2 linked regions of the Homo sapiens genome follow. The protein of the gene in region 2 purifies or fractionates together with the protein of the main gene of each other region. This does not show direct contact. Each region holds a gene or a part of one and is shown on either strand. Other genes may lie near its edges. The genes, in order: GNA11 and CXCR5.

Region 1 (3,069 bases), on a different chromosome or scaffold from region 2:
GGTGATGGCTGCACAACCGTGTGGATACACTTAATGCCGCTGAGCTGTGCACTTAGAAATTTATCTGTATTTTACAATTTTTTTTCAAAAGGAAAAAATAACTGAAGGAAGGCTGCAGAGGTCCCACATCCGCAGCTTACAGAAACGGAGGCCCGGAGGGCATGATGTCCCCACAGGTGCCCTGGAAGGTGAGGGGCAGGCTGGCCTGGGACCTGGGCTCCTCCCCGTCTCACTCCCTTGTCCCCAGCCCCCAAACAAGGTGGCATTTCCCAAGCAGGTTGCTCTGGCCTGGTGCTAGTGAAATGAACTTGAAGTGAAGGGTCAAACAAGATGACAGGGGAGGGGCCCCGGGACACCGTGCGGAGGCACCCAGGCGGCCCCACTGAGGTCAGGCAATGCCCTAGGTAACTCCAGGGCTCCTGGGGGCCAGGCCTCTGCACACTTCCCCCCAGCCCCCTTTGAAGGACAACAGGAAATAAACCAGAAGGGGGCCGCCAGCATTTAGGAACAAAATTTATTCCAATTTAAAACAGAGTTCATTTCAGGAGAAAGATATGAAAAGTCGACTTCCATCGGTGTCTGGATTAAGGGTCAGGGCCGGTGGCTGTGGGAGGTGACACTGAGCCGCTCCTCAGCCCCTCCTCCCATCCCCAACGCGCACAACACATGCATTTCAAATGGTAAAAGGCTTAAAAACAGCTTGTATAGAATATTCTTTTTTAAATAGATTAAGGTTGAAATTGTCTGAAATCAGGACTGTGTAATATACAAGTATCACTGGGTCCCGTCCGCCAGGCCGGCCACAGGATCTGCTGCCACCACTGGGGGACATTGGCACGGGGATGCCTCCCTGGGGGAGCCGGGGGACCCAGGGCATGGGTTTGCAGTGGCCGGGGGCTGCTGCCGCCCGGGCGTAACATGGTCGGAGAAGGTGGTCGGCACTCACGAGAAATCGTTGGCAGGTGAGATTCACCAAGGTAAAAACACACACCCCACATGCCCACGTGGCCCCACACGTGGCAAGGGTGGGGGTTGGCTGTCCTTGCCCCTGGGTGCCACTGGCACGAGAACCACTGCCTGGGACTCTCCTGGGGCAGGCACCCCTGCCCTGGGCCTGCAACACCTACCTCTGCTTTTTTGGGGGGCAGGGGATCAGGCACTCAGACCCAGAGGATCCAGGCCACGACGTTTTGGCGGTCCCAGCCCGGCTCTGGGATGCTTGGCACGCCCCCTCCCTGGGAAGGCCTAATACTTAGCCCCGCAGCGCCCCGGCCTGCGTGCTGGGCGACTCCACCCTCAGGCCACGGCCAGGTCACCTTGTGCAATCTAGGCCCTCAGAGATGCCACAAGCACAGGCCCCCCAGAGGGCTCCGCTGCTGGAAAAGGTTGTAGCGGCCCTGCCAGGGGTGGCCCCATCTGCTCCCCCAGGGCACCGCCGGGCCCCAGCACTCGCCATGGGGGGCTTCTGGCACCAACCCTCTTAGGTAGACACCTGGCACAAAAAAAGGACGCTTCCGGGTGAGACAGAAGTGGTGTGGGGAAGCCGGGGGGGGGGTATCCCGCCAGCCCCGTCTCCCCATGGGGCTGATCACCAGAAATGTAGCTGCCCTGACCTGGTCTCCCCTGACCCTTCCACGGGGCTCCCCGCTCTTCTGCCCCCAGAAGCCAGCAGACAGCCCTGCGGACGAGGAGGCCAGGGCAGGCCTGACAGTGGCGGGCAGGCAGGCGGGAACTGCTGGTTGGAGTGGTCGTATTTTGGGGCTGTTTCTTTTGTCATCTGTCGAGGCCAGAAGCAGCCGTGCAGGGTCCCGGTGTGGCGGCGGGCGAAGGCAGCACAGGCGATCCATCCCTGGGACAGCTGTGCGAAGCCCGGAACCACAGGGCGCTGTAGTGTTCAGTCAACAGCAGACGAAAAAGCCACCTCCCCAAACACAGTCCCCTCGTTCCCCACCTTCCGAGTCTCTCGGGGAGAACCAGTCTCGGTGCCTCAGTGCCTCAAGGGGCCCCGGGAGGCGGCCCCCGGGGCTGTGGCTCAGTGCGGCGTGGCCTGGCGGGCTCCCCCTCGGGCCGTGGTCGTGGCCAGCCAGGCCTGGAAGCTGCCCAGGCCGGTGCCTGCCACCACCTTCCACGCGCCCCTGGCCAAAGTGCGAGTGCTGGCTTCCCGCTCCCCGGGGGCGGCGCTCGGGGGCGGGCGCAAGTGCTTGGGACAAGGCCACGCACAGAGCTGCCGGCCACGTCCCTCTCTCTGCCTCTCGGGTACACACCTGAGAATATTCTGTAAAAGTCCCCACCCACCCTCGCTGTTTCCAAATTGGTGACATCACAAAGCGGAACAAAACAGAAACGCCCCCATCCAAGTGGCCTTTCTCCCAGTGTCACCGGGGGACCATCCCTCCAGCCGCCCAGCCCACGTGGGCTCCGGTGGGGTGCGCTCTAGCCAGGGCAGGGTGGCCGTGCAGCCCTCTGGAGTCCCCGGGCAGCCCCAAGCAGCCAGTGTTGGCCCCGGAGGCACAGCCCAGAGAAGCCCCCGTGGCTCCAGCCCGGGGACCCTTCCCAGCCTCTGCAGAGGGACGGGGAACCCGGCCATGAGAGAGGGCCCAGGGTGTTTCTTCAACCTGTGAGTCAGGCGTTCTTTTTCCTCAAAAAAATAAAATAAAATAAAAGGTTAGGCACTTCCCAGGGTGGGCGACCGAGGGAGCCCCCCACCCCCTCTTCAGGAGTCCAGTGGGCAAAGCACAGCGTTGATGGGTGAAGAGGCGAGGCGCGCTGGGCGTCAATAACTTAAAAAAGGGGAAAAACGTCCGTCTCCGAGTCTCCACGCCTTTTGTGATGAAGAAAAGAAGCGGGCAGGAGAAAGAAAAAGCACGTGGGGTTGGAAGGACAGCCACGGGGGGCTGCGGTGTGGGGGCGCGTGACTGGCTGCAGGGCGGGGCCCCATGCTGGCTGGCGGGGGCTCTGTGAGGCCCAGAGTCACTGGGGGCACGGGGCGCTTGTGTGTTTTATGTTTCGTTGCTTTTTTTCTTTCTTTCTTTTTTTTTTTTTTTTAGAAAAAAGCGAGCCATAAGTCAA
Region 2 (2,278 bases):
CAGCTTGCGAGGAGATACTCAGAGAAAAAAGGGACGTCTTAGGGCTTCCTCGTTGTCCTGCCGTGAAGACACTCTCACGTGAGCCACAGCTGTTATTTCCCCAGTGGGGCCTCCCAAGGAGCTTGGCTGCTTGGCTTGAGTGGGACAAGGGCAGGGGTCCCTGACTCCCCACCTGATCAAAGGCTGGGGAGGTGGTAGGGAGCACCCAGAACTGCCGGACGGGCCTCCCACACCCCAGGTGAGCAAACAAGCACGGAGCAGCTTCCTGCGGTTCCATCTGAGTGACATCCTCACGGGGGCAGGGCACGGCTTCCTGGGGCCTGGGGACTTCCCTGCCTCAGTGTGTTTCTTACACTTCCCTGCCTAAGGTGATGCCACGGAGGGGATGGTTGAGATGACTCCCACGGGCCCCTTCCAGTCCACCTTTCTCCGTTCCGACTCTGAGTTTCCTCGGGTCTATAGCTTATGGGAAGGGAGTGAGGAGGGGACAAGCCAGCCTCCTTCCCCATCAATGCCCACAACCTCCCATCCCCTGGACCCAGCCACCCTAGGAGTTCTCCACCCCACCCCATCTCGCCTGGCGGAGGGGACCGCCGGGTTTGATTGATCCATCTCCCTCCTTGGGGTTCGGGAAGAAAGCTCTTTTCTTCCCTCTGTCGGGTTTCTTTCTTGCTTCTCGGCCTTCACGCTTCCTCAGGTCACTGGCTGGCCTCCAAGGGCACCTAGAGTCAGCCCTGCCTGCAGACCACCCAGGATCCGGTGACATGGGGTGGACCCAGCGCTGTTTCGGTCAGAGCCAGGGGCAGCTACCTGAACTCAACCAGTCTGAGCTTCCTGCTTGGTCAAGATGACTGCAGGCTTGGGGGCCTGGCAGAATGTCTGTGTTTTTAGGGACTGAGTTGTCCGAAGGCCACACTCTGCTGCCAGCTGGCCTTTCCTCAGCCTTAACCTCCACTCATCCCCTGGTGCTCAGCTTCTGGCTTTGTTTGACAGGTGGGCAGGAGGAGAGAGGGGAAGCTGTGGAGGTCAGCAGCCCCTAAGCTGATGGAGTGTGTTCTGGGAGGGGCAGGCGCTCTCCGTTGGCAAGGGCAGAAGTAGAAGTTGTTTCTTGAGCATTGGATGATTAGGATGGGAGGTGCGTGAGGTTCTCTCAGCCCAGGGGGGTGCAGATGGGTAAGGACAGCCTTCACTGTGCCTTTGAGCTGCTTTCCGCTCCCTGGGCTCCAGCCTAGCCCCAGGGCCGGCAGAAGAGCTGGCAGGGATGTTCTAGAAATGGGGGTTGGTTCCTCTAGCTACCCCAAATGAGGATACTCCTAGGACACTCTTAGCCACGGTGAGCCCTTAGGATCCCAGCTCCTGTTGGAAGGAGCATCCAGCATCACTGCCTGCCCCAAGGAAAAGCAGCAATAAAAGGGGACACTGGGACCTAGAACGTGGTGAGAGAGGTGGCATTCTCTGACTCAGAGAGACTGCTCCTGCGCCAGCTAGGGAAGAGCTGGCACAGGGAGGCAGGGCCGGTACAGCCCAGCTTCGTCAGGAGCCGCGACAGGTCACTGCGGAACTTCACGCCGGCGAAAGTGTAGAGCATGGGGTTGAGGCAGCAGTGGGCCAGGCCCAGGAACTCACACATGGTGATGGCCACGGGGAGAGAGCCATTCAGCTTGCAGGTATTGTCCACGGCCTTCAGCCTCGCCAGGGTGTCCAGGAAGATGACGATGTGGTAGGGTGACCAGCAGAGGAAGAAGATGCTTGTCACCAGGATGGCCACCCTGACTGCCTTCTGCCGCTGAGGGCGCCGCTGGGCCTGGCGCAACCTGTGCACTACCCCCACGTAGCACCAGCCCATCACCAGCATGGGCAGCAGGAATCCCGCCACATGGTAGAGGAATCGGGAGGTGAACCAGGCATGCGTTTCTGCTTGGTTCTCTTGGGAGAAGGTGCAACGTGGCAGGGAGTTGTTGTGATGGCCTTGGCTGACTTTGGCGAAGAGAATCTCTGGCAAGGCAAGGAGGAAGCCCACCAGCCAGATGGTCCCACAGGTGATGTGGATGGAGAGGAGGCGGCGGTGGCGGTAGGCATGGACGGCGTGGACAATGGCCAGGTAGCGGTCCACGGCGATGCAGGCCAGGAGCAGGCTGCTGCAGTAGAAGTTGACTTTGTGCAGGGCAATCACAGTTTTGCAGAGGAAGGTCCCCAGGACCCAGCCCACAGAGCCCTCGGCCACGGCAAAGGGCAAGATGAAGACCAGCAGGAGGTCGGCCACGGCCAGGTGGAACAG

The links.
Region 1: the proteins of CXCR5 (region 2) and GNA11 purify together in Homo sapiens (affinity purification with western blotting; one study listed by BioGRID). This does not show direct contact.

What each region holds. Positions count from the first base shown.
Region 1 is NC_000019.10:3,121,431-3,124,499, reverse strand, and holds the end of GNA11 (guanine nucleotide-binding protein subunit alpha-11), read right to left. Parts: 3' UTR 501-3,069; downstream 1-500. UniProt on the Homo sapiens protein: Guanine nucleotide-binding proteins (G proteins) function as transducers downstream of G protein-coupled receptors (GPCRs) in numerous signaling cascades.
Region 2 is NC_000011.10:118,893,812-118,896,089, reverse strand, and holds part of CXCR5 (C-X-C chemokine receptor type 5), read right to left. Parts: coding exon 1,427-2,278; 3' UTR 1-1,426. UniProt on the Homo sapiens protein: Cytokine receptor that binds to B-lymphocyte chemoattractant (BLC). Involved in B-cell migration into B-cell follicles of spleen and Peyer patches but not into those of mesenteric or peripheral lymph nodes.